Linked DNA regions of Homo sapiens: region 1 is linked to region 2. Evidence: fine-mapped expression QTL. A gene starts in region 2. The other region holds a variant in brackets. All regions are shown on one strand. Distances are between the middles of the regions. Region 1 overlaps DGKG (diacylglycerol kinase gamma). Region 2 holds the start of TBCCD1 (TBCC domain containing 1).

Evidence for each region.
Region 1: its variant is fine-mapped to the expression of TBCCD1 in thyroid (GTEx, PIP 0.97).

The regions. Positions count from the first base shown.
Region 1 is chr3:186,303,255-186,318,677 of GRCh38, forward strand. DGKG (diacylglycerol kinase gamma) reads right to left here. Exons shown (of 25, transcript NM_001346.3): 3 at 3,647-3,723. Among named protein-coding and RNA genes, the nearest start is that of DGKG, 51 kb to the right of the region's middle. The variant T/A (reference allele first, on the strand shown) is at 6,210.
Region 2 is chr3:186,556,301-186,570,610 of GRCh38, forward strand. TBCCD1 (TBCC domain containing 1) reads right to left here and starts at 11,039. Exons shown (of 8, transcript NM_018138.5): 1 at 10,967-11,039; 2 at 7,694-8,072; 3 at 2,117-2,272; 4 at 109-475. The coding sequence starts at 8,029. RefSeq lists a silencer at 10,943-11,232.

The sequences.
Region 1 (15,423 bases), 250 kb before region 2:
AACTAGGGAGTGGCTAGGGGTCATGCCCAAACCAGATGACCAACCACTATGAGGCATGCTGGCAATTCTCTGAGACCTGGACTAACATCCCAGGCACACTCATGGTTCAGGCCAAAGGAACTCTGTTTTTCCCCAGCAGCTTTTATGCAGGAATTAGCTGGGCAATTTGCTCCTGCTGCAACACACTTAAAGAGAGTGTGTTAATCCTTACACAGACCAAGAAGAGAGAACTAGATGGAGAGCTTAGCAGGCATCCGGCACTTTCATTCTCAAGACAGCAGTGTGGGGAAGAACTGTTACTGTCATTCTGGGGATAAAACAAATTTTGACAACATAAATAACTTGCTGAAGATCATAAAGCGTGTGGCAGAGCTGGGCTTTGTGATCAGGTGTCTGGGTCCAGGCTCACAGTGCCACCAAGCCACCTGCCTCTTTTGCTTTTCTGGGTTTTGCCCACTCTCTAGCTGTCTGCCACCACTCTATTCTCCAGAGAATCACTTGGTACTGATGGGCAAGCGCATGTTCATCACGGCCAGATGCAGCTCTGCCACTCTGCAAAGTTTTATTCCCATCCTACCTTTGCTAGCAATCTGCCCCTTCCCACAGCTAACTCGTTTCTCATTGAGACATTTTAGCAGCAGTAAGCCATCAAACTCAAGAGAAATTAAACCCTTCTTATTTCCCTAACCCTGTGCCATGACATTACACCTACTAGAAGTCAGCTGCACTGTGTGAGAGAACGAAATCAGAGTGACAGAGCTCCCTGGGACCCAGCAGTGCCTGGCATTACAAAAAGTGGGGGCCAGCCCCGACAGAGGCGAGGGCGGCTGCGTGCTCATAGCAGCCAAGCGACTCCCTGCTTCTGAAAGCTCCTGTGGCCTCCACACCTGCAGTGGCCCTGACCAAACTGTTCCTCTCCCACTCATCAGCCCCAGGGCGGACAAGCTGATTAGCAGCCGCCGCCAGGCTTTGTTCCCGTGTTTTTGGAGCTGGGGGTGGGGGGTGTGGGGCAGTGAGTTCTTTGCTGGCTCTGCTATCTTCTCTGCATGGTTTCTCCTCAGGAATGTTCTTTGAAATGGTGCATTCTCAGTCTCGCCCCTGTTCTGGCAACCTTCTTCCTGCTTCATTCTCTCTGCAACTGGTGTATTTTATCCAAAGCCCCTTTTAGGTGTACCTTGAGGGCACAGGCTCTGTTGATTCATTTCCAGTGTCCAACGGAGAAGGTGTTGACTCAGTTTTGTTCAATGGATGACAACGTGAATAAGAAAGTGGCCAGTCTCTCCCTAAGTGAATCCTGCAGATCAGTCACTTTTCTGTGGTTAGTCTTCATAAAAGGACTCAGGAGCAGGGAAAAGGGAATTGAGTTAAAAACATTCTGGGGAAAGGGGATGGAAGAGGGATAATAATAGGTACAGATTTTTAAGTGCTTGTAGAATGTTAGCCACTTTGCAAAGATCCTCTCATTTAATTCACTCATCCACAAACTTCGAGGCTTTTTTTGTTATGTACAGTTTATAGATGAGGAAAGTGAGGCTCAAAGATATGAAATATTATTCAAGACCACTTGTTGATGGCAGAGGTAGAAGTCTAACTTAAGACCATGTAATTCCAGGGTCATGGCTTTCAAACCTGACCCTGCCAGTAGGAAGTAAGTCCTGGAGGGCAGGAACTGTGCTTCTATATTTTTATGCCTTCTACAGTGCCCAGTACAGTGCATAGAAGCCCAAGAAATGTTAGAGTCATTGAATTTGAAAGTAGGGGGAGATCTTGCATTCATTTATTCAGTCCACAAATGTTTATTGAATGCCTGCTATAAGCCAGATACTTTTCCAGGCACTGAAGACACAGCAGTGAACAAAAATATGCTAGTGGGAGAGACAGACAATTAATTAAGTAAATTATATAGTGTGACAGGTGGTGAGAAGTACTTAGGAGGAAAATAATGCAGAGCAGGGGGATAGGAAATGTCAGAAAGAGGGCTTCAAGTTTTAGATGAAGAAGGTGATGATCACTGAGAAGGTGACTTGAGCATAGACTGGAAGGTGGTAAGATAATGGACAATGTGATGTGCTGAGGAGGAACATTTTAAGAAACAGTAACAGCAAGCACAATGGTGCTGAGGTTACGGTGACACTGGCTTATTTGATAGCATCAAGAAGGCTAATATGCTGAAAAGGAATGAAGATGGGGAGAGTAGCAAGAGATGAGGTCAGAGAGCTGGGGGAGGTGCAGCTTGTAATGACCTTCATGTTTACTCTGAGTAGGGATTGGGGGAACCATGGGAGATTGTGGAGTAGAGCAGTGACAAGCTCTGACATAAGTTTTAACGGATTGCTCAGGATGTGTGTGAAGAATAGACTGAAGCAGCAAGGGCAGAAGCAGGGAGATGAGTTAGGAGACTCTTGCAATAATCTGGGCAAAATATGGTGATGACTCAGGTCGGGATGCTAGCAGTGCAAGTGGCGAGATGTGTCTATATTTTGGATACATTTTGAAGGTAGATCTAACAGAATTTGCCAATGAATTGGATGTGGGATGTGAGAGGACAGAAGTTGATGATGACTGCATAGTTTCAGGTTGAATAACTTGAAGGGTAGAGTTGTCATTTACTGAAATGGAGTAGACTGCTGGAAAAACAGGCTTTATAGGGGAAGATTAAGGACACATCAGTTTAGCTCATGTTAAGTTTGAGATGCCCATTTGATTTTTAAGTGTAAATGTCAAGTAGAAGGATAAGAAGAAATCAGGAGAATGTAGAATGTAGTGAAGAAAATGGAGGATGACTTGACCAACCGTGTCCAGTGTTGTTGAGCAAAATTGCTATTGGATTTAGCCATAGGGAGGCCCTTGGCTATCTTGACTAGTGATTTGAGTGGAAGAGTGAAGGTTATAGACTGATGCAAGGCATTTCAAGAAAGTAGGAAAAAGAGAATTTGGAGGCAATGAGTATAGAGAAGTATTTTGTACAGTTTCGCTGTAAAACACAGGAGGGAAATGAGGTGGTACCTAGAGGAGGAAGTGGAGTCAGGAAAATGTTTTTAATATAGAAGAAATAACAGGATGTTTACATGTTGATGGAAAAATAAAATATACGAAGAAAGCTGATATGAAGGAGACAGAGGTAGAGATATAGAGAAAAGGAGGGACGAGGAGGGAGGGAAAGAGGGAGTCTGGGGAAGATATGTTGCTGAAGCAATGCCTGTAAGTAGGCCAAAAGAGGATGGGGTTGAGTGCACACGTGGGGGAGTTGGACGTAGATAGGAGCATGGAGAGGTCATCTCTGGTTATAGAAGAAAAGGTACAGATAGGTGGGCCTATGGGGTGAGGGAGCTTGTGAAAGATCTGTTCTGTTTGTTCTATTTTTTCAGTGAAGCAGAAAACTCAGTTGTTAACTGAGGATGAGGAGAGGAGGGGTGAGAGATGAGCAGAGGAGAAGTAGTGGTAGTCTTCTAGGACAGTGGAATGAGTGTATGGGCTTGGGAAACATATAATGCCAGGTAGCACAAATGGCTCACTTGAGACTTAAGAGGAAACATGCTGAGGAGCAAGTTCTTCAAGGCAAGCGGAGTCTCCAAGAGGGAAACAAATTATGGAAAGGCTAAAAAACACAGGGGTTTTTAAAGGCTTAAAATGGAAATGTTCTTACCTCATGTGGGTCATATTGTTTGAGGCTCCCACCCTCATTAAATTCAGTCAAGGCATCTTTTATCTTCTTGGAGGAATCTGAAGAGACACAATTCACATGTGAAACACTGGCAAATAGCTAATGGAAGCTGGGCCAAGTAAATTCTCCCTGTGTAACCATGTTTATGTTGGAGCTGCCCCTCAGTCCCAGAAAATCTGGAGAAATGTCACCCTCTTCTACCCTTTGTCCTCTCACTTCTTCTTTTCCATCTGACTTCCCCCCTGCATCTAAATTATCTTTCTGAAACACAAATCTGATCAGATCATATCCCTACTCAAAACCATTCAAGGGCTTTCTGTTCCCCCAGGATAAAGCTTACCATTCTTAGCTTAGAAGATAAGCCCTTAACTTGGAATACCAGCCCTTGGTGATTTTATTTATCCTATTCCTCATTTCCCTATTTACTCTACGTTTCAGCCATATCAAGTTACATTTCCAGACATCCCTGAACATATTGTGCACTCTCTCATGATGTTTCTTCTCTGTCTTGCAAATTTCACTCATTCTTCAAGATCCAGCTCAAATGTCAACTCCTTTGTAAAGTCTTCCTTTGCACCAGTCAGAGTTAAGCATTCCCTTCATTGGCTCCCACGTGACTTGTACACAACTATGTAATAGTGCTTGTCATATAGTGTTATAATTATTTATTAACTTGCCTATCTTGCTCATCTCCTGCTTCAGCTTTACCTTGAGAGCTGTTAACTGGCTGGTGAGTCTTTGTCTATCATACTAAGGTCTGACGTGTAACTAGGGCTCAGAAAAACAATATGTAGATGAGTATATAAACATCTGAGTGAAAATTTCAAAACATTAAAAATTCATTAAGTATGTAGGATGAGTGGGCATTAAACCCCATAAGGCTCTGTCCTTGGTGCTGAAACACTGTTGTACACTATGGCAAGATAGTTTCTTCTACTTCTGGAATCTTGACAACTCTGTCCCTTTTTTTTTTTTTTACCTGATTTTTATTTTTTATCTTGATGGATAAAATTGAGCTACTCATTCTGACACATAAAACATAACCTCAATTATGTCTCATAATTAGCATGGTTGATTTTATGTTCCCATGGTATTTCTCACATATTTCTGACAGCCAGAAGATTTTCCTCTGAAAGTTGAGGCCTCCACCCCCCGCCATGATTTCCCCTTAATGTTCCCTCTATGTTGCATTTACTTTGGAAGGGGATAAAGAAAGACTCAGATAATTCATCAAACATGGTGTTTTCGAAAATGCTGCTTTCCATAGGAAATCATTCAGAAGCAACTGGAGGCAAGACTGGCTGCTTCTTTTTGGAATTTTATAAAGGAATTGGGAATCCAGAAAAGAGACTCAATAATTGTTATTAAAAACACATTATGAATGCATCTTGTGCAGCTATCAGCACTCTAGACATCAAAGCAAACCAGGGTTTCTCTGACCTTGGCTATCCCTCTCTTCCAATATTGTGGGTAATTAAGAGCTTTCCAAGCTCCATTATTGTTGCTATTTAAACATCTGAGCCAAAGGACGATGTTATTAAAAGCTCACACAGTGTTTTTTGTTGCCCAGGCTCTTTGTACAGAGGGTTAATGTCTCTTAAGCCTAGGTAAAGTAGACATATTCGTGGGCTGGGCTGTTCTCCATGGCTTTGCTGACTTGGATTCAATCAAGCAGAAGTTCTAATCATTTCAGGATTGAGACATATTGAAATACAACAGGAAAATGCTTCTGTTGCCTAAAAATGGAAATTTCTTTCTGAAATTCAAAACAGATGTTGAAAAACTAATAGCTCAGTAAGAGCCAGGCAGCAGATGCTGTCAATTTGGGCTGCTTCCATTCAATTCAGAAAACACTAAGGAGGGTAAGATGCGGCAAGATACTGTTAATGGACTAGTGGGAAAGATGATCTAAATAACTGTGGTACTAATAGCTGTCCCTTACTGGAGACCTTCACCTGCATAGTCTCATAAACTCTCCTCTACTAATCCATGCAAGTATTTTCTTCAGTTTACAGATGAAGAAGCTGAAATTCAGAAAAATTAATTCGACTTGCTCAAGAGCCAGGGTTGTAACTCAGGTCTAGTCTGGCTCAAAAGTGTATGGTCTTTTCCCTTGAGCATTATTCACTATAGCTTCCTAAACATTTGTTAACATAAAGAAAGGTGTAATTAAGGGTGACACAATGATATGAAGTTCTATGAAACACCAAGTTGGGAAGAAGAAAAATTAAGATGAAAGTGGGGTAGGGGTGGGAACTGAGGCTGCCCTATAAAGGAGGTAGCATTTGAGCTGAGGCATAAAGAATTGGGTAAGGTTTATAAAGGCAGATATGAAGTGGAAAGGGTATTCTCGGAAGAGACCAAGGGAGCAACGGTGCAGAGATGGGCACCATAAAACGTTTAGGACAAGTCAGAACCAGAGAGTCATTTGTGGCTAGATTTGTGGGGGTCTTGAATGTAGAGTTAAGAACATTGATTTGAAATGGTTAAAGATTTTTTTGAGTGGTGAAATAATATAACCAGCTCTCTGTTTTCTAAAGACCAC[T/A]CTGGAAACAGGATGAAAGAGAAGTTAGAATGAGACCAGAGCTCAGTTAACATCACACATATATGTTATTCCACAAGCAGCTTAATTATTTAGGAAAACAAATCCTACATTTTAGAATCTATTTTAATGGGAGGTTGTTAGCTCAGCCAAAATGGCTAAATAAAAAAAATAAAAATCTGAGAACATGAGTACCCCTGGTGTGACTTCTGCAAGAAGAGTGTAGAGTTAGCATTTTGATTGAGAACCAGTGGAGTAATTTCAATTGAATATATGATATTTTGATGTTCTCATCTCATTTTGGATATTCCACCATTCACTGTAGCAGAATTCCTTTGATTCTAAAGAGCTGCTGCTCTATTTTAAAAATCCTGCTTTATATTTAAATGTGTGATATATATACACACATAAATTCATCATATGTTCGCATAAAATAAACTGAGGTTTTAATAAGAAAAAAATAGAAAAGACATTTATTTTAAAATATCTGATTAATAGCCTGAAATTAAATGGAAAAAAAAAACACAGCCGGGCGCGGTGGCTCACGCCTGTAATCCCAGCACTTTGGGAGGCTGAGGCGGGCGGATCACGAGGTCAGGAGTTCAAGACCAGCCTGGCTAACATGGTGAAACCCCATCTCTACTAAAAATACAAAAATTAGCCGGGCGTGGTGGCACGTGCCTGTAATCCCAGCTACTTGGGAGGCTGAGGCAGGAGAATCACTTGAACCCAGGAGGCGGAGCTTGCAATGAGCCGAGACCGCACCACTGCACTCCAGCCTGGCAACAAAGCAAGACTCCGTCTCAAAAAAAAAAAAAAAAAAAAAAAACCACACACACACAACAAGAATCCAGGAGGTTTCTAACTAGCTTTCCGTGAGGTGGATTACTCATCACACATTTACTTCAATTTGCTTTATGGGCTTTCATAGGATTATAGTATCAATACCCTTTAAAAAAGGGAATCAACTTAATTCTCAAATTTGGGACACATTACTTTCTCCTTGGATGTCCTTATATACTTTATAACAGTTTTCTTCTTAATAGATGTCTGGGTTGGGTTTCTTTTTCCATGAGGAGTAAGTAGGTATTATGCATGACTAATCTGCTTCAGTGACAGCTGCTTTATTCTGTTTCATCTTAAGACAGAAAAGAACAACGAGGGAATAGCATCCCTTGGTCTTATTTTAGGTGTCATCTGTGGGTCCAATAGTATAACCTCACAGAAAATTCCTTTGTCAAAGCCTTTACCATAATACCAGCACTAGATTCAGAGGACACCTTGTTCCATTTCTGCCTGTAGAAAATAGGGCCATTTCCACAGCTCTTTGTAACAATTCCCATTTTGTAGAGTGCTTATTATATGCTAGACGCTGTCCTAGTCACCTTATATATTTTATTTAAATCCCCACAACTACCCTCTAATGTAATAATTATCCTTATTTTAGAGAAGAAACCGAGGCTTATGGAATTTAAGTGATTCTTTCAAGGAGACAGCTCGTAAGTCACACTTCTTAAACATTTCTAAATCATAGGCCATGGTTATTGGATTCACTGGATACTTGAACACTGGTAAGTTAGAAGCCAGGACTCTTCCTCTATGAAAGTGGCTCTCAAACCTGCCTGCATGTTGAAATCACCTGGGGAGCTCTATACACACTGTAACCCAGGTCTTACCCCAGGTGAATTAAGTCAGCATCTCTTGAGGAACCCAGGACACAGTATAATTTAAAAGCTTCCTGGAATTCAGATGTACAGTCAAGGTTGAGGACTGCCATTCTAGGACATGATTTTATTGTTGTAAATGAAGACTGTCCTAAAAAGCCCCTGAACTTGAATACTTATTGCCAAGGGAAAAAAAAGCTTATAACTTCTAAATTTAAAATTGCTGTGCTTGGCAGACATTATCCATTGTTTAAGTGGACAACACCAAAGAACTCTACCCAACAGGTCAACTTGTTCAGCTGCTTGGCAAGGTAGGAGCATGTTTTGCATTCACCCAGACTGTCAGGACTATCCACATACAGTTCTGTCCTAAATCGGGTGTTCAGAAAGTTTTTCTCTTTGATCAAGGTTACCAGTGCCCTAAGAAGTTTTCAGTCCAAAATTGTCTTCTATACTTTATGTGCCAAGAACTCTGGGACCTAAACCAAGCACTGTTCCTAGTGTTTGAGCAAATTCAAAGCCTTTTAAAGGGAAAAATTTGGCCCTACACACAGACACCTTTGTTGCCTTGTCAGTGTGGGACAGGGGTGCGTTCCATCTGAACAAGCAGACAAATCAGAGACTTCAGTGTTTACAGCAGAATATTAGTTGTGCTGCCAGGACTAGACCCCAAAGTTTATAGTCTGTTGTCTAGTTAAGAACACAGAGTAGGCCGGGCGCGGTGGCTCACGCCTGTAATCCCAGCACTTTGGGAGGCCGAGGCGGGTGGATCATGAGGTCAGGAGATCGAGACCATCCTGGCTAACAAGGTGAAACCCCGTCTCTACTAAAAATACAAAAAATTAGCCGGGCGCGGTGGCGGGCGCCTGTAGTCCCAGCTACTCGGGAGGCTGAGGCAGGAGAATGGCGTGAACCCGGGAAGCGGAGCTTGCAGTGAGCCGAGATTGCGCCACTGCAGTCCGCAGTCCGGCCTGGGCGACAGAGCGAGACTCCGTCTCAAAAAAAAAAAAAAAAAAAAAAAAAAAAAAAAAAAAGAACACAGAGTATTTGAGCATTAGACCATTAAACTGTTAAACTCCGAAAAAACTATAAATCAACATTTTCAAAAGTGAATCTGAAAATCCATATATGAGAGTGGAATTCTAAGGTACATGATAACTCTTCATTCCTCAAAGTTCTCTATGAGCTTCTCAAACTGTAATGTGCGTATGAGTCACATTGGGATCTGGTAAAAATGCAGATTCTGTAGGACTGGGCCACAGCCTGAGATTCTACATTCTGAATAAGATCCTAAGTGACACCAATTTTGCAGGTTCACGGACCTCACTTGATACGCAGGCTCTAAGCAATGTCCCTGTGGATCTGGGGCTGACTGCTGAGGCTTGCCTGTCACAACCCAGAAAAGACCACGATGCCGAGGACAAAGGAACATACTCAATGGAGTAGAAAGACCATAAGTGGTGGGCAGGGGGAGTCACTGAGACGAGGGGAAGGGAAAGTTGGCGCATGAGCAAAAAAATAAAATCTAGATTTTCCTTCTTCCAGTGAAGGCTGGGATGTAAGAATACATTTTCTAATTACTCTAGGAAGTTATACAGTGAGATGCACAAAAACAAGAGCAGAGTTTTGTGAGGGTCCTGAAAAATGTCAAAACAGAAGGGCCAGGGCCAAGAGCACTGCATCAAAAGGCCCACCTCTTCAGCCAGCTGGAGTCAGGCCTCAGAGCAGCACGTGGGAAGCACAGGGGAGAAGCCCAGCTTCATAAGCACGGATGTACTTGCTACACACATATTCTCCCATCTAAACTTTGTTTCTGCTCACTGTTCATCCCCAGCATGCAGCCCATTGCCTGGCAAAAAAAATAGATATTCAAGAAAGATCTATTGAATAAATGAAGGCTAGCAAAGGGATTGAGCTGGTCACACTTGTCCCACATGTCCTATATTCTCAGGGGTATGGAAAGAAAAGGTAGACTAGTGGTTATCAACCTTGGCTGCTTATTGAAATCACTTGCAGGGCTTTAAAAAATACTGATGCCCAGGCCCCTTGCCTACAAACTGTGATTAAATGATCTGGGAGGTGTGGGCAGAACATTGGAAGTATTCCAAGCCTTCCATGTGATTTGAACATGAGCCGAGGCTGAGGACCACTGACATGTGGAAGTGATGGCTCTGACACAGATGTTACATATGAAATAATAAGAAAAGACTTTATATAGAAGCAGAGGAAATTGGGGTCAATAGCAATAAAACGTTTTTTAAGACACAATTTTTTTGTCATAAATGATCTGAATCACTGGTATGACTTATTTGTGTAAGTAAAATTTGTATTGCTAGAACATTTTCTCACCTTTTCTCCAAATAATTTGGCTTCATCAGTCGTATTTCAAGTGAAGGTGGAGGAATGGATCAGACAACTTGGACCATCTTGCAACTAAAAGTGTGGTCCCTGGACCAGCAGCATCAGCATCACCTGGGAGCTTGTTAGAAAAGCAGATTCTCAGCAGTACCCCAGACCTACTGATTCACAGTCTGCATTTCAACAGCTCTCCAGGAGATTCATGTGTACATTAAACATTGAGAGCTATTGTTCCATAGAAATTCCTCCCTATCCGTAGATTCTGTGACTCCTGGTGGGCAGAGTCCTACTCATCGTTAAAAGAAAAAAAGGTCTGTGGTGCTGAAACACATGTAGGTGAGAAATAGTTATGGCTATCCTTCCAAGATAGAAGCAACTAGATATGACCCTTCATGGGCCCAGGACTTCATGAGCATTTGATCAAGTCTCACTCTACTGGCCAGCATAAATAGCAAGGTTTTAGTGACATTTACTTAGAGCCTTCTATGGTTCTACATATCAGCCCTAAATATGTTCTCTGACTCTGACAGTTTTGTATTTTGAACTGTAACTACATCTTAAAGTCAGAAACTTTGTCATAATCTGATTCGAAAGAAATATATTTCCTAATAGCACAATTTACTGATTGATTCTCTTTAATTACATCTTAAAATTTTGCTTTAATGTAATTTAATTGACATATACATATCTGCACACACACACACACACACACACACACACACACACACACACACACACACACATTAATGTATGTTTGAAGGTTGAGCTCCAGTGGGTACTTTTTGTTTAATTTGTTGTTGCTGAATTGAAGCAAATGAGTTTGTACTAGAATTGAGGGACTTTTGGTTCTAATTTCTATTTTACTATCGACCTTCTTTCTATATGACCTTGGGCAAGTCACTGAGCTCTTCTGGACGTAGTAGTCTCAGTTTTAAAATGTGTAATGCTTGGCATTGATATGGTTAAGATTTTTCCCAACTTAAAAATTCTGGCTGAGTGCGGTGGCTCACGCCTGTAGTCCCAGCACTTTGGGAGGTCGAGGCGGGTGGATCACCTGAGGTCAGGAGTTCGAGACCAGCCTGGCCAACATGGTGAAACCTTGTCTCTACTAAAAATACAAAATTAGCTGGGCATGGTGGTGGGAGCCTATAGTCCCAGCTACTTGGGAGACTGAGGCAGGAGAAACGCTTGAACCCGGGAGGCGGAGGTTGTGGTGAGCCGAGATCGCGCCGCTGCACTCCAGGCTAGGTGACAGAGTAAGACTCCGTCTCAAAAAAAAAAAAAAAAAAAAAGTTCTACACAGTCCAAGCAACTGCTGGCTGATGTAGGAAATGTTTGGTTTAATTTCTTAGAGAATTAAAAGTTTAATGGATGCTTCTTCAGTTGTTTTTCCTTTTTTCTCTTTCTGAATAAATGAATAGTTTCTGTCCTTGAGGCATCATGGAACTTTTAAGGAATTAACAAAAAATTGAAGAAAAAATGCCCACCCCCCAATGGCCACCAGCAATTATTGTTAGGAAGAGGGTCAGTAGGCGGCATCCCCACATGCACACACCCTCTGCGGTAGAAATCTATTTAAATATAGAAACCAAGTATTGGAGGAGCTAATGAAGGTCATTTAATCAACCAGATGACTAAAGCTGTTATCTCCCCTATAGTGTCCAAACAAACTCTCTGCCCAGACAGTTCCAGGGAAAGGAAACCCAGTCACTTTTAAGTCAATTCGATTCCATCTTGGGCAGATTTGACCACTAGTAATTAATGTATTCCACACTTTAAAGACTTCCTATAACTTCCTCCCATTAGTCCTAGGGCTACCTCTTGAAGCCATTCAAAATTAACTACACACCTCTTCCCACAACAGTACTGAGCTATTTTAATACAACGAGCTCTTCTTCACCTTTCCCTTCCCTTCTCCAACAAATATGCACAGTATCTTCATTTCTCCATAATGTGGTTGTGAGGCCCCTTACCAACTCTCAAACAAGTTCCAGGTTGTCCATGTCCATCGTAAACCATAGTGACCATAAATAAATTCAGTTCTCTAGAGAGGTCTGACGGTCTATCAGGGTAGGCTAGAATGTGGATATCAGTTTGCCTTACTAGGCACTGTGAGTCTATGAATACAGCCTAAGATTGCAATGACTGATTTGGTTAGATGAAATAGTACAAATGTAGTAAAAAAAAAAAAAAATCTCTGCAACCGCTAACAGCTATGCTTCTGAAGAGTACAGAATGATGTGGGAATGACTCATGATCGATATTGTGTGCTAGCCAGTTTCCAAAGATGGCTGCCATAAATTCTTTCCCTCCCTATGTGAGTCCCTCCTCCCTGAAATGTGGAGTCCGTTCCTCTACTTCACTGAATGTGAGCCAGGCCTGTGACTGCACTGACCAGTGGAATGTGGAGGGAGTTCCGTTCTAGGATCTCTGATCCCAGGTGCTAAAAAGATCTGACAGCAGCTTCTTCTGTGCTCTTGGAGCCCTGAGCTGACATGTTAGATTTCCAGGTTACCCTGCTGAAAAGAAAGGACATATGGAGAGGCCCTGGAAGACAAGAAAGTGCTGGAGAAAGAGGTTCCATGAAGGAACACTAAGGTCCCACCATGTGAGTGAATGAGCCATGACGGATGGTCTAAGTCCTCACTTGTTTGAGGCCTCCCCCTTGAAGGTCCAAACACTGTGGAGCAGAGATGAGTCATGCCCACCATGTCTGCCCAGGATCCTGACCCACAGACTCATGGGAAACCAAAATGGTGGTTGTTTCAGCACACAAGTTTTGAAGTTGTTTTGATGCTGCAATAGGTAACTGAAACATATTGTTAAGGGAAAGAAAACAGCATACAAAATAGCACAACATGCATATTCTCAAGTTTGTTTTACATGTGTATGTTGTATATGTGTATATATGTATATGTGCTTGCATATTTTGATATCTATATTTATACTTATATTTATACATAAACATGCTAGTGCTGGTTATCACTGGAAAATAGAATCATGAGTAGCTTTAAATTTCATCGTTTTATAATACAAATTTCTTAATATCACATTAGCTCTTTTGATAAGTACTTTACATTGTAGATTGATAACAAACTTACTGTCAGCTATATGTGTGTGTGTCTGTGTGTATATGTATGTACGTTTACATACAAAGTTAAGTTACTTGTCTCCAAGAGCAGTTTTAAGATGCCCCACCCTCACCCTATAGAAGGTCACCAGAGAAGGTGCCAACTTTACACTATATAAATGGAAAACAACAAGAGCCTCTCCTACCTGGTAACCCCACTGGAGAAAGTTCTCAATTCTCAGGCTGTACACTTCATTATTTTGTTATTGTAAAGCTCCTGTTTATGTGGTTACGGAAGAGTGGTTGCTATGGCAATGCAATCCGACTGAACACCAGAATGTGTCTAAAATTGGTGGGAATGACTTTTTCAGGGTTTCCTCTGAGGATTAATCATTTTGTAAGAATTGTATCTTTTTTTCCTCTCCTGTTCGAACAACAGTAGCAGAGTGCCTCATCCAGTCCCGCGACATGGACAACACGAGCAAGGGTCAGAGAAGGACAAAGGTAAATGTTTAAAGAAAAGGCCCAACCCCAACACAACCCTCTTCTACTGAATACTCTGGTTCCTTTTCATCCCTCCGCCTGCTCAGCGGCTTTGCTGCATTTGGAGCTCCTCCTTGCCTTTGCGCCCTCCATGCTGCACTCTTTTCCACCTACTTGCCTTTCTGGTTCTTCTCTCTGTGTCTTCTGCTGAATCCTGATAGAGGCATACCTTAAGCCTCATTCTCCAGCCTCTTCTTTTCTTTCCTAACATTCCTACTGTCTGAGTGCCTTCATTCATTTTCTTTCTCTCCTTGCCATCTCCTCGCATGATTCCCAAACCAGAGCTATGGACTGACCCCTCATTTCCACTCAAATCCCATCACACACCCTCCTGGGGCCTACAGGACATGTTTCTTAGAAAGCAGGATTCCCCAGGATGGGGTCCTACTTTCCTTTCTAGTTCTTCCCCCAACACTCCTGATGCCACCACCAACACATGCTCTGGGCTCCAGCCTGGGAGCTGCTTGCAGTTCTTGGAAGCTCCCATGATGTCCTCCACCCTGCCCTGCCCTTGCCCAAGCCACGTCCTCTACCCGGAATGCCCTTCTCCCTCCCTGCCCTACAGTTCCTGGAGTCTGGAAACAATGCGTGCATCAGGAGGCCTCCCACCAGGCTGAGCGGGGCCTTCTCCTCCCATGCTGCCCACTTCTGAGCACCGGCTATACTGCAGCACCCGTGCTTGAGTCCTGTTTGTCTTCCCCTGTGAGGCAGTGATCTCTTTGAGGGCAGGAACTGTGTCTCATTTATTGCTGGATCCCTGGAGCCTGGCACATAGGAAGGCGTAGTGGATGTGTTATCACCATCTCCAAATCAACAATCCCAAACATTCCCCATCAGCCCTGCATCCTGATGTCATTTTCTACAGATTCAGTCTGCAAGGTATCTTTGATGGCTTCCTTTTGTTGTACGTGCATTGATGATATTTCCACCACAGTTTCCCACGAATTAGCATTTGTTCATGGCCACACTCACCACCTTAGCTCTTTGGCTCAGACTAGGTTTCCTCCAAAGGATCCTGCCCAGTTCCCTGGCCTGGAAACTGCCTGATCCAAGGCACCCTGCACACAGTCTCCAGATTCCTGGCTCTAAATTTTGCCCACACTTTGACACACAAGGCCCAAGACCTCCTGCTATCCCCACGCCTCCTATGTCCTCCTCATTTTCTGTGCCTTCTCACCATCCAGCCCAGAAGCTCTCCTTACCCACCCCTGCACACCACAGGAATGCTTAGTGGGTGTGTTATCACCATCTCAAAATCAACATTCCCAAACATTCCTTTTGCTTCCATCGTTCCCCTTCCATCTGCTGCTCACATTTTAAACCTCTTTCCTCCATGGAGTTTATCCAGCTAAATCCTCTGTTATCGGTTCAACCGTGCCCTAAACCTCAAATTTATGTGTTGAAGTTCCATCCCTCAATAACTCAGGATGTAACCTTATTTGGGTTGTTGCAGATGTAATTAGTTAAGATGAAGTCATGACCGAATGGGGGGATCCAGGCCAATAAGGTTGTGCGCCTAGGAAAGGGGGAACTTTGGACACAGAGATATGCACACAGGGAGAATGTCACGTGAGGGCATGCA
Region 2 (14,310 bases):
TATTTTTTAGGTCTTCTAGAGAAGACACGAGATCACTAATATATTAGAAAACACTAGGTTCCTTAAGTTGTCATTCAATTTAATGTAGATTAAAATATTAAAAAATACCTTGATGAGCCCAAGCCAATTTCTTTCCAGACTTGAGGCAAGCTGATGTACCAAATGGATTCCCAGTCAAACAGGACCTCAACCAGGTTTCCAGTTTGTAGAAAGAGAAAGTCTTAGAGATCTTTGAGAAGCCACTATCTGCATGCAGTGGTTGCCACAGTGCAAGTTCATGAAGTGGATAGATCTTCCTGGCTCTACTTATTGTACCTTCAATAAGGAAGCTGAGCGCCACAACAGCTTCTCGAGACACTAGACTACTATGGGTTGAATGAAATGATGCAGTGAGTTGTTTTGGATCTAAAAGCAGCTCGAGGAGATCAGACAGATGATCATAGACAAAAGCTTGGTGACTGTAATCATTCCAGTTCTAAAAAAAAGTTAAAAGAAAGCACTCTTAATAAAGAGATTCCACAAGATCTAAAATTTCTATATTTTAATTATTTTGTATTTATACTCTGCCTCATCCCCCAAAAGGAATTAGGTAGTTATATAAACCTTATAAAGGTGATCCGCCCGGCTTGGCCTCAGAATTTCTAATCCCTTAGAATTCCAGTTCATTAACAAGCATGATGGCTATTCCAGTCCCAATGTCAAATGCGTTTTTAGTTCAAACACCTATCACCAATGCATAATTTCTTCCTGGGGGAACTGACTGGCCCAGGTCGTCACTTTAAATCTGGCCAATTTCAAATGTATAGCAATAAATGGGCTACTCAAGTGTCCACCCCGGTCCAATCAGTTACTCAGAGAGGTCGTGCTGTAGTATAAACCAAAGTCACCATTTATTGGTGCTTACTATGCAATAAGTCCCATGCTAATATATTACTGAAGTCTCATAGTCATTCAGAAACATGCATTATTATCCTCACTTACAGAAGGGAAGCCAAGGCCTAGAGAAGTTAACTGACTTGCCTAAAATCGTATGACTAAATGATAATAAATGATAGAGGCAGAAATGAATGGAGGCTACCTTGGCTCAAAACACCATCTCCTAACAGTGCCCATTCTGCAGGAACTACATGTGGAGAGAGAGGTAGTGACTGGTATCTCTCATACATCTGGGCTTGAACATTCTGAATTTAAGCTATAGCTAGGGCATCTATATAAAGCGGTAACTATAAAGCAAGAGCTCTGGGAAGGACACAAAGTTGGGAGTCACTGAGATATATGAAGTCGTAGGAATATAAAGAATTACATTGAATGAATAAGTTAAGAGAGAAGGGAAAATTGACCCAGACAGAATAGCTGCTTGTAAGGGCCAGGGGAGAGAAATTTATGAAAGAAAGTGAGAAGAGAGAGTTAGAAGCAAAACCAAGAGTAATAGCATCATGGAATATAAAGGAGGAGAGACTTATTAAAAAGGAGATTAGAAAAGTTCCAAATAGCAAAGAGATATTTTTTCTTAGCTTTAGAACATTTTTAAAGAGCTTGTACATGGCATTAATACTGAGGCCTACATTTTACTTAAAGTTTTTCAATATACTTACACAAGAACAAGTAAAAATATTTTGGTTTTCTTTACAAAAACAGAAAGAAAAAAGCAATAAGACATCCTCTAAAATTCACAATGTGAGGCAGTTAAATTTAGCTTCTGGGTTGTCACGTATGTAATTACTTAAACAACATGAGAAGATATTTTTATAATTTTTTTCAGTAGATTTCAAAAGATTTTGCAAGCACTCCATCTTCTTGATGCTCCTTAGTCACATAAGTTGATTCGCATTGATTGACATGTTGAAAACGGCAGTGCTAATTGAACATAGTGATGATCTGCCCACAAATCAGCAAGTGGTTTTCCTACCAGTGAAGGCACTGCAACCAGTTCTCTATTGTGATTAAGACTGTACACACTGATTTTGTTTTATAATTTAAAAAAAAAGTGAAAAACAAAACAAGCCATCAAATCACTGGCTTATGTAAGAAATCTCATCATAATTTTTAATGCAAGTGAACCATCTCCCACACAAATTGTCCCTTTTAGAGAATGAGATCAAGATATAAGGAGTACCTTATTATGACAATTAGATTTTTCAGTCAGGTCAGGAGACTGAGATTTGTTTCTGGGACTGGGCCACTCTTCGCCAATCAAAGATGTCCTTAGGGAGACCTTGTTCAACTGTTGAATGTATAAGAAGAGCAGAAACTGTAGCGTGTCCACTGAAAGCTGTCCAAGAAGAAAATAAAAGATGAATAGACGTTTTAAAACATCAACCACTAGTCTAACAACTAAGTAGACATAGTAAATTCACAAGTTGGCTGATCCTAAAAAAACCAACTTAGAAACATTGCCAGTTTTGATATGTATGTCTCTGGTACCCAGATGTAAGAGTTTCTTTTTCTTTTTTTTTTGAGACAGAGTTTCACTCTTGTCGCCCAGGCTGGAGTGCAATGATGCGATCTCAGCTCACTGCAACCTCCGCCTTCCTGGTTCAAGCGAGATTCTCCTGCCTCTGCCTCCTGAGTAGCTGGGATTACAAGCATGTGCCACCACGCCCAACTAATTTTTTTGTATTTTTAGTAGAGATAGGGTTTCACCATGTTGGCCAGGCTGGTCTTGAACTCCTGACCTCAGGTGATCTGCCCGCCTTGGCTTCCCAAAGTGCTGGGATTACAGGCGTGAACCCCTGTGCCTGGCCAAGAGTTCCTAAAACTAATTAAAGTGGAATAATTTACCTTCACAGAAAGCTGTATAACATCTATGGCTATAGAAATTATCTCTCAAAACTGATGAAAGGATGTAGTACATACTTTAAGTACATTATTTCAGAAGTTTAAACTTACAATTTAAAAAAAACCAACCTTAGTAATTTGAATAAATAAGTAGATGGAAGTAAGAAAGAAGAAAATTCAGTTAAGACAGAGGTCTAACTTAAGACTCACAAACCTGTCAAGAAAGTTTAGGATACCAGTGCAATACCTGAAATTGTATGTAATTTTTTGGTATATGTGCATTTTTCAAGGGAGTAGGCCTCAGGTTTTCAGCAAATTCTTAAAGGGGTGTTTCACTTAAAGACAAAAACACTGTTGGTCTGATAGATGTATAGTCATTTCTTATTCAAGGAAGGGTGTGGTTGAAGCTCACGACTTGAAGCCCCTGATTACCCTCATCTACCCACCCCCATACAGGAGAGGCAAAAAAGTAAAGTAATACATCTGGGTCTACAGCTATATTCACCCTGATTCCCAACCTGGCTAAAAACACTATCATCTGAGAAACTTAAAAGTACAGATTCTCAGGATCACCCAGACCTATTTAATCAACTAACAATGTGAAGCCCCATGAATTTGTATATTTTATAAATTTTTACTTTCTTAATTGAACTTCTGAGATAACTGTAGATTGAGATATAGTTGTGAGAATTCACACAGAAAGATCCCATGTACCCTTTACCCGCCTTGCCAAACTATAGGACAATATCACAATCAGGATATTGACACCGATACAGTCAAGATACGAGAACATTTCCATCAACAGAACAATCTCTCATGTTGCCCTTCTACAGCCATATGCACTTCTCTGTCCCACTCACCCCTTCTTAGGCCCTTAGCAACCACTTACTTGTTCTCCATCTCTATAATTTTATTATTTCAAGAACATTAGGTAAATAGAATCATATAGTATGTAACCTCTTGGGATTGGCTTTTTTCACTAAGTGTAATTCCCTGATTTTATATATACTTCCATTTTAAACAATTATTTGTTACATTATCATTATTTCTTCATGGAGACTATAGGATCCTTGCCTTTTCCATTTTTATACTCCTAGTAACTAGCAAAGCATCTGGTACATAAAAAGCACTCAAAAAATCTGGAACTTCCTGAAGGTTTTATTCATCTCTATATGCCCAGCATCCACTACTATACCGAGTACATAGTAGATAATAAATATTTGATTAATGAATAAATGTACTGCCCTTTCCCTCTTCATTGCTTGATAAACTTTTCAATTTCCAAAACGTTGTTTAGATATGACCCTATAAGGCAGAGACTGCTAGATGCTTACTACTTTTTTTCTTCTTCCTGGGTATGTAATTAGATGGCATTTCCCATCTTCCTTTGGAGTTAGATATGGCATAAATGAATTACAGCAACTGAATGTGAATGAATTTATCTTTATCACTTTCAAGCCTAATAATAAAACTCTCAAAAGAAATGAAAGCAAAAGGACTCTGAGGCCCCAGTGGGCATGGCTGTGGCAAATTGTATTATTATTTACTATTGCTCACTTTCAAATTCTCTAAGAGGCTTATACAGCCCTACCCATGGCCATGGGATTTTCCTTATCTCCTGAAAGGTGGTTTACCTTCCCATCTTCATGGGAATAATGCCTTAGCCAATGGAATAAAAGTAGTCTTAGTTTATGTCAAATCTGAGCAAAAGTTTTAAGAGGCATCATGAGTCCAGAAACAAACTCACACATATATGGTCAACTAATTTTCCACAAGGGTGTCAAGAATACAAAACGCAGAATAGTCTCTTCAATAAATGATGCTGAGAAAACTGGATCTACAAATGCAAAAGAATGAAATTGGGACCATAGCTTATACCATACACAATCAACTCAAAATGGAGGAAAGACTTAAATGTAAGGGGTGAAATGGTAAAACTCCTAGAGAAAAATAAGGAAAAAGCTCCTTGACATTGGTCTTGGTAATGATTGTTTGGATATGACACCAAAAGCACAGGCAACCAATGCAAAAATAAGTTGAATTATATCAAACTAAAAAGCTTCTGCACAACTAAGGAAACAATCAACAGAAGAAAAGGTAAACCATGTATCTGGTAAGGGGTTAATATCGAAAATATATAATGAACTCCTGCAGCTCAATAGCAAGAAAAACCAAATAACCTAATTAAAAAATGGACTATGGACCTGAATAGACATTTCTCCAATGAAGACATACAAATGGCCAACAGGTATACGAAAAGGTGCTCAACATCACTACTCATTAGAGAAATATAAAGCAAAACCACAATGAGATATCACCTCACACTTGTTAACAAAAGATTAACAAGTATTAGTAAGGATGTGAAGAAAAGGGAACCCTGGTACACTGTCAGTGAGAATGTAAACTGGTACAGCCATTATAAAAAATAGGGCCGGGCGCGGTGGCTCACGCCTGTAATCCCAGCACTTTGGGAGGCCGAGGCAGGCGGATCATGAGGTCAGGAGATTGAGACCATCCTGGCTAACATGGTGAACCCCATCTCTATTAAAAAATACACAAAACTAGCCGGGCATGGTGGTGGGTGCCTGTAGTCCCAGCTACTCAGGAGGCTGAGGCAGGAGAATGGTGTGAACCTGGGAGGTGGAGCTTGCAATGAGCTGAGATCGCGCCACCGCGCTCCAGCCTGGGCGACAGAGCGAGACTCCGTCTCAAAAAAAAAATAAATAAATAGTATAGTGGTTTCTCAAAAAATAAAAAAGAGAACTACCATACGATCTAGCAATCCCACTTCTGGGTATTTATCCAAAGGAATTGAAATCAGGATCCTGCAAATACCTGCACTCCCATGTTCATTGCAGCATTATTGATAATGGCCAAGATATGGAAGCAGCCTAAATGTCCACAGATGGATGACTAGATAAAGAAAACTTGGCATGCATATATAATGGAGTACCATTTGGCCTTAAAAAAGAAAGAAATCATGTTGGGTACAGTGGCTTATGCCTGTAATCCCAACACTTTGGGAGGCTGAGGTGGGAGGATCACTTGAGGCCAAGAGTTCAAGACCAGCCTGGGCAACACAGTGAGATCCTGACCTCTATGAAAAAAATACAAAAATTTGCCAGGCATGATAGCACACACCTGTAGTCCTAACCACTCAGGAGGCTGAGGTGGAAGGATTGCTTGTGCCCAGAAATTCCAGGCTATAGTGAGCTATGATTACATCCCTGTACTCCAGCTTGGGCAACAGAGTGAGATCCTGTCTCTTAAAAACAGAAAGAGAGAGAAATCCTGCCATTTTCAACAACATGGATGGACCTGGAGGACATTATGCTAAGTAAAACACGCCAGACACAGAAAGACAAAGCTATGTAATCTCACTTATATGTGGAATCTAAAATAGTCAAACTCATAAAAACAGACAGAAGGGTGACTGACAAGGGCTAGGAGGAGGGGGAAATGGGGAGGTTGATGGTCAAAGGCTACAAAGTTTCCGTTATGCAAGAAAATTAAGTTCTGAAGATCTACTCTACAGCATACCGCCTAGAGATAACAATTACATGTTGTATACTTAAAATTCTCTAAGACAGTAGATCTTATGTTAAGTGTTCTTAACAGATACACACACAAAATAACAAGCATAAAAGAGGAGGGGGAACCTATGGGGGGTGATGGGTATGTCTATGTCCTTGACGGTCATGATGGTTTCACAGCATATACTTATCCCCAAACTGATTGAGCTGTATACATAAAATAAGAATTTAAAAAGAGACATCATGAGTTTCCTCCATTCTGTTGATCTTCCCTTCTGTTATAAGAATGGGAATGATCTACACAGAAGCTATTTCTTTAGCCTGTGTCCCTAAATGGGGAAACACGGAGCCTGGACAAATGCCATAGCAAAAATGAAGCCCACATGTAAAATGGGCAAGAAATAAACCTTTTCCCCTGTAAGCCACTGGAATTTCATTTGTTTGTTCTTAATGAATGAAATCAGCTTTTAACAAAGCTGATTAACAGTGACTCCAAGTGATAGAAGCATGGATCCCTGGTCATCGCTTGGATGACAGCAGCCCAGAGATTTGTCCAACCAGGAGCAACTGTGTTAGATTGCTGCCTGAATGAGAAATAAACTGTTACTGTTCTAAGCCACTGAAATACTGGGTTGTCTATTACTATAATCAGCCTACTTGATTAATATACTTTCTCTGTGAAGTCTTTCCTTATCACTGAAATAAATCATTCTTTATTCAATTTCTGTACTTTGTGTATTCTTTTATTATACATATCACACTATTAAATAGCATCTTTTTTTAATACCAGCTTCCTCTACTAGTCCATAAGCTCCATGAGGGTTGAGATGCTATCCTAATCATCTTTGAATCCCATCATGTAGCAGATGTTCATTTTAAAATAGTCAGGTGCTCTGACTGTAACATATCAGTTGTTCATAACACTCATTCACCCCAAAATCTTTTTAAAGTCAGTAAAATATTTCCCTTTTTCAATAACAGGGTCTCTGTAACATTACTGCTTTGGGAGTAGGTGAGTAAGGTCTGGTAAGTAAGGACTAATTCATTGAATACATGAAATACTGCCAAACTGGAACTACTAAAACTCAAATGATAACTTGAGATTACAATGGCCATTAGCCTAAAACCTAAAATTTTACAGCTAATACAAAAATTAAGAATGGTTTATTGGGCCAGACATGGTGGCTCATGCCTGTAATCCTAACATTTTGGGAGGCCGAGGCAGGAAGACTGCTTGAAGCCGGGAGTTCAAGACCAGCCTGGGCAACAAAGTGAAACTCTGTTTCTATCTAAAAATTGTAATAAGCAAAAACATTTTTTAATTTAAAAAAGAATGGTTTCTTTCCAAAAGTAATTAAGTATACACACATATCAATCCGTACCTGATTTCTCTGCTTTTCAACTTCCTCCTCAGACATGCAGTTGGACAGAACCTCAGACCATTCCAGGCGCTCCTCAGGTGTCTTCATTGAAAGACTATCAAATATTTCGAAGTAAAGCCACGCCAGGTCCTTGGCCAACTGCAGCTTCCCACAAGCGATGTGCCTCCATGTAGACCAGTAGAGGCGCGGGTAAGCTCCTTCTGTGGCCCGGATTTGCACATAGGTGGATATCTTCCTGAGATAGTGAAGACTAAACTTGGATGGAGGGGGGACCTGCAAGGCACCCACTATAAAGGGTTCTGCTTTCACCCAGAGGAGAACTCTGGACTGATCCATATTATCTCTAAGGACATCAGGGTGAAAAGGCTTCTTTGCATACCTAGGAAACAAAGTTTCTTCATAAACTGATTTGAAACAAGTCTCATTTATGCATTTTTTCTTGGAAGGTGACCCCTCTCTCTCAACTGTGTCATATGTACTACATCATCATCTTAAAAGGCAGCTCTAGTTCACCAACCAAGAGCAGAACAGTTTTTTTAATCAGATCTCATTATAATCTGAGAAAAAAATTGTGATAAAACAAAATTATCTTACTTGAATTGTTAGAAATCCTTGTTTTAGGAAGTGTGTGTAGATGCATGAAGTCTGAGTGAGATCCCAGGAAGAAAATGAATGAGGGGAAAAAAGTCATCCTATCACAGGAAACCTTTTTCTACTCTGAGGGGGAACACTGTTCAAAATAAGGGAAATACATTTCACAGAGTTAAATCACTTACACAGAAGACAGTTGGTTAAAGATCTGGACATGTTAGCTGAGCATATAAATTCAATATGAAGTGCTAATGTGAGGCAGCAGGCAAGAATGCTAATGTAAATGTAGACTGCAAGAATAGATCAGGAGAAGTTACAGCATCTTTATTCTCTATAACAGTGAACCCACTCTAGCATATTTGATCCTGCTCAGTTCAGGTGTGATTTTTTAGATTTTTTTTTGTTGTAACAATGATACATGATTTTTATGGAATATTTATAAAATACAAAAACAGGGAACCATCCACAATCCCACAAGTAAAGGGCAACAAATTAATATTTTATTGTATTTCCTTCTTCTTCTTCTTTTTTTTTTTTTTTTTTTGAGATGGAGTTTCCCTCTGTTGCCCAGGCTAGAGTGCAGTGGCATGATCTCAGCTCACTGCAACCTCCACCTCCCAGGTTCAAGCGATTCTCATGCCTCAGCCTCCCCAGTAGCTGGGACTACAGGCGTCCACCACCACACCTGGCTAATTTTTGTATTTTTAGTAGAGATGGGGTTTAACTATGTTGGCCAGGCTGATCTCAAATTCCTGACCTCAAGTGATCCCTCGCCTCAGCTTCCCAAAGTGCTAGGATTACAGGCTTGAGCCACTATGCCTGGCCTCTTTGTCTTTTTTCTACACATAAATTAGATGTTAGTTTTTGAATTTTCACAGTTGTGATGTTACATACACAATTCTGTACTGTTTCAAAAGCTTTATAGTATTCTAAATAAATGTATCCCATTTTATTCAACTCTTCTCCCATTTTTAGACACCTTACTAGGTTTCAGATTTTTCACAAAAACAACATAGGCAAAATACTGATCATTATTGAAGTGGGGTAATGGGTACGTGGGGGGCTCACTGATTCTATTTTTGTGTATGTTAAAAAATTTCATTACAAAAGTTCAAATGTTGTCACAAGTGTAAATAATGCTATCACTACCATCTTTCTTCATATTTTCTGCATTACGAATTATTTCTGTGTGAAAATTTTCAGATGTACTTTTGTGAAATTAAGTAATTGACATTTCTAAAGCTTGTGAAATATATCCTTGTTGCTTCCAAATGATTTTATCAAATTGTACCATCCTTTGACTCTGGTACCTACTTCACTGTGCACTCCTCAACATTAGCAACATCATTTTTTTAAAAATATAAAAACTAATTTAAAAAATCAATTATATGACTGATGAAAATTTTATTGCTATTATTATATTTTGCATTTGATTCTAAGAAAACTGTGCTTCTCTCTTTTTTTTTTTTTTGAGACGGAGTCTCGCTCTGTTGCCCAGGCTGGAGTGCAATAGCTCGATCTCGGCTCATTGCAACCTCCACCTCCCAGGTTCAAACGATTCTCCTGCCTCAGCCTCTCAAGTAGCTGGGATTACAGGCTCCCGCCACCACGCCAGGCTAATTTTTGTATTTTTTTAGTACAGACAGGGTTTCACCATGTTGGCCAGGCTGGTCTTGAACTCCCTGACCTCAGGTGATCCGCCTGCCTTGGCCTTCCAAAGTGCTGGGATTACAGGCGTGACCCACCGCACCCGGCCTGCCAACTGTGCCTCTCTCGAGAATCATCTGTTCGGAAAAATAACTGACATCAATCGAGTGCTTACTATGTACCAGGTATCATGCTCATGATTTTGCATACTTCACCTCCTTTCATCCTCACAACCACCTGGAGATACAGTACTTAAGACTGTACACATTTTCGATGAAAAAAAAATGAGGCTTAGCGAAGTTAAGGGATTTCCCTAAGGACACCTACTTAGCTGGCACAGCTCTAGATTAGGATTCAGGTCTGACTTGAGAACTGCATTACTATAAATGTACTCTAGGAATCCAGTTTTGGGAGAATCTCTTAAAAACGGGAGTGGATCCAGAAGAGAATTTCCAGAATAAAGAGTCTTAGACAGGAAGCCAGGTGAAAGAACCAGGGAGAGTAAACTCAAAAGAAGGGCGTGGAAGGGCAAAAGGCAGCTGTCTTCCAATGTGGAGAGACTGGAGTCGTTTTGAGTAAAACCAGACGATAAAAGTTAGGCGAGGAAGACCTCGGTTCTCTCCAAAATGTAAAGAGGCTGCTCTGTGAGGTACTGAGCCCCTGTCAACAGCCAGATCCCAGAGATGAGCCCTCCATTCTAACTCCGAGAATCGAGAGGGCTCAATCCGTAAACAAACATAAACTGGGGCTCTGACCCTGGCGGTGCCCTGAGGTTAAGGTTTTTCAGGTCGGGAGATCGGCGTGGGTCCAAGGCGGCTGTCCTGGGGCTTCGCCGCCACCTTGGACGCGATCCGGGGTGGGACTCTGCGTGGGCCGCCCCAGCGTCGCGACCGGACTTCAGGAACACAGACGCTCACGCTGACAGGGTCGGTAGCTGACCCGAGACGCGGTAAGCGCGAAGGCAGCCTCCTCGACCCAAGCCTGAAGCCTGACTAACCCACACCGCCCTCCCCGGCGCACCCAGTGCGCGGTTACCTGCTAATGCAGGCGCCGCTCCGCCGCACTTCTCCGCGCGCCGCCGCGCCCGGCGTCCGCTCGCTGGGCCCGCCCCTCACCCTCCTCCGCGCGCCGCTGCCGTGCCCACTGCGCAAGCGCGAGGCCCCGCACCACCGAGACCTGGCGGACCCCGTTGCTAGAGCGGCAGATTGCGGCTCAAGCGTCTGAGAAAATCTAGGCTGGGGTCGAGAGTCCGCAACAGTGGCACCTGGAGCCAGACCCACCGCTTTCTGGTGTCGCGCCTTTCAACCCGGGGGGGTAGGAAGCTTTCTGTTGCTCCGCATAACTGTGGTCAGCTAATAGCTGCTGGTAAGATCAGCACGCTTTCATCAGAAATGCTACTAATACTAATGGCAGTTTGCATTTATAGAGCACTTACTATGGTCTCAGCACTGTGTAAAGCAACTTTATGTGTATTTCCTAAGTCTTGTCAAGAGCCCTTTAAGTACATTCGTTTTACTGATGAAGAAACTAGGGCCTAGAAAGGTGAAAATAACACAACCCTAAGGTCACACAAGAGATGGAGCCAAGATTCAAGCCCAGGGCGTCTGAAGCAAGACTGGCACTCCCTGCCGCCCCTCGGTGTCAGCTCCTTAACTCTGTTAGCTTTCCTGCCGTGTTTCCACCTTCATGAAGCTTTTTCAGATTACCGGGCAGAAGCCATCACTCCTTCCTTTAAACTTCCATTTCAGAATTTCTGGACATTTCCTGCTTTTTTTAGTTCCTTTATGGCCTCTCTAGGTGTGATAGATACAAAGGTAAATTAGACCGTAAAATGCAATTTAGTTCCTCTTTTGTGTGGCCATTGTCCCTACTGGGTATCTTCCTGAAAGCAGGGGCTTCAAATTTACACATACCTGGGTTAGGATCCAGGCTGCACCACTTATTAGCTCAGTGACCCTGCTGTTACTTGTTGAGTACCACTGTGTGTCTGGCACAGTGGTACGCACTAGAATGACAGAAGTGAACAAAACAGACAAGGTCCTTGCTTTCTTGGAGTGTATAACAGGGAGAATAGACAATACATATTAAGGAATAAAATAAGATAATTTCAAATAGTGAAAAATGCTATGAAAATTGGGGCGGGGGGTCAGGGAAGGCCACTTTGTGGTGCCAAATTTGAGCTGAGGCCTGAAGAGTAAGAAGCCAGCCATACAATGATCACCATCCCAGTAACTTTGACTCAAAAGTACTTCAGCACCTACTCCATGCCAGGCACTGTTCTAAGGTGCTCTTTTATACAGCTGTGAACAGAACAATATAGATTCATGCTCTCATGAAACTGGCATTTCAGTGTGTAAGTCTAGGGACCAGGGATGAAAAAAATAGGAGGCCGGGCGTGGTGGCTCATGCCTATAATCCCAGCAGTTTGGGAGGCTGAGGCGGGTGGATCACTTGAGGTCAGGAGTTCGAGACCAGCCTGGCCAACATGGTTAAACCCAGTCTCTACTAAAAATACAAAAAAATTAGACGGACATGGTGGTGTGCGCCTGTAGTCCCAGCTACTCGGGAGGCTGAGGCAGGAGAATCGCTTGAACCCAGGAGGCGGAGGTTGCAGTGAGCCAAGATCACGCTACTGCTCTCCAGCCTGGGCGACAGAGCGAGACTCTGTCTCAGGAAAAAAAAAGAAATAAAGAAAAGAAAACAGGGTGGTGTAAGAGTAAGGAACTCAGTAGGGGCTAATTTTGATTAATTGGTCAGGGAAAGTCCTCCCTGAGGTGGCGACCTTTAAGCTGATATATGAGTTAAAGAAGGAATCACCCATGCTAGCACATGAGGGAGAGTACAGTGTTTCAGGCAAAGGCAATAGCTAGCACAAAGGCCCTCGGCAGGAATGAGCTCGGTGTATACAAAAAAAAGAAAGGAAGCAAGTTTTGCTGGAGCATGGTTAGGAGTATAATAGGTTTACAAAGCATAAACGGCTTTGTAAACTAGCATGGAGTTGGGATTTTATTCTAAGTGCAAATGAAGAGCCATTCCAGGCTTTTAAACAGGGGAGTGACATGATTTGACTTTTATTTTTTATTTATTTATTTATTTATTTATTTTGAAACGGTGTGTCACTCTGTCGCCCAGGCTGGAGTGCAGTGGCAGGAACTCGGCTCACTGCAACCTCCACCTCCCAGGTTCAAGCAATTCTCCTGCCTCAGGCTCCCGAGCAGCTGGGGTTACAGGCGCTCGCCACCACACCTGGCTAATTTTTGTAGTTTTAGTAGAGACAGGGTTTCATCATGTTGGCCAGCCTGGTCTCAAGCTCCTGACCTCAGGTGCTCCGCCCGTCTCGGCCTCGCAAAGTGCTGATTACACTTTGGGTGGGTGAGCCACCGCGCCCGGGCTTTTTTTTTTTTTTTTTAAATCATGGAGTGAGGGACAGGGATGAGCAACATATATTAAGATATTAAGGAAGATATTAAGAGTGGGGGCAAGGAGGCCAGTTAGGAGGCCCTGGCCAGGTGAGAGATACACTGTGACCCAGAATCCTGGTAATGGAGATGTAGTGAACAGATTGAAGTATAGTTCAGAGGTAAAGAGTTGGATAGCTTATGCATGAAAGGAATAAAAACACCTAGAGCTTTGTCCTGATCAACTAGGTGTTGTGTAACTGCGATGAGCAAAATCGGGGGGAAGATGGGGAATCAAAGAGTTCTGCTTGAACCGTAATAATGGTTTTTACTCGTTGCCTGCTTACTATACGCCCGATGATTTACCGATTTTTTTCCCTGTTAAAATTCACAGAACTGCCAATAAGTGCTTTGCCTCAGTTTTGTTGATAAACTTAGGCTCAGACTTGGGAGGAGGGGAGGGGTGGGGGGTCTCACCACTAAGAAGCGGTGGAAGCCGAATCCGAACTTAAGTCGGTCTGTCATCACTGTAGCCTTTCCGAGACAGTTGTCTTATGGAGTTGCTTGGAGAACGTAAAATAAGAGGCCTAAGCAATGCGTCTGATGTACACCTGTCGTGGAATAACTGTTCCCGCTCATTCGGCCGCTGTACCTCTGCTCCCTCATTCGGAGCGTAGCTGGGTATGAATGAAATTCCGGGCTTGTAGCACAGAGAAAACTTCTCTCCCACAATTGGTTGGTGCTGGGGAGGAAGCTCCTGATTGGTGGAAAGTCCGAGGAAGTGGGCAAGCCGGAGGGATTTCGTGTACCTCAGGTGCCCTCACTCTGACCGGCCCCCTATCATTACGTAATTTTCTACGACTCGCGGTAGCTCAGGCAGAGCGGGTTCCTGCAGCGGCGCGACCCTCTGACGTCTCCGCTTCTAATTGGTCAAGAGCTGCGACTGCAGTTCTGAAGCCTAACTGGTTGCCCGTGCCGCCT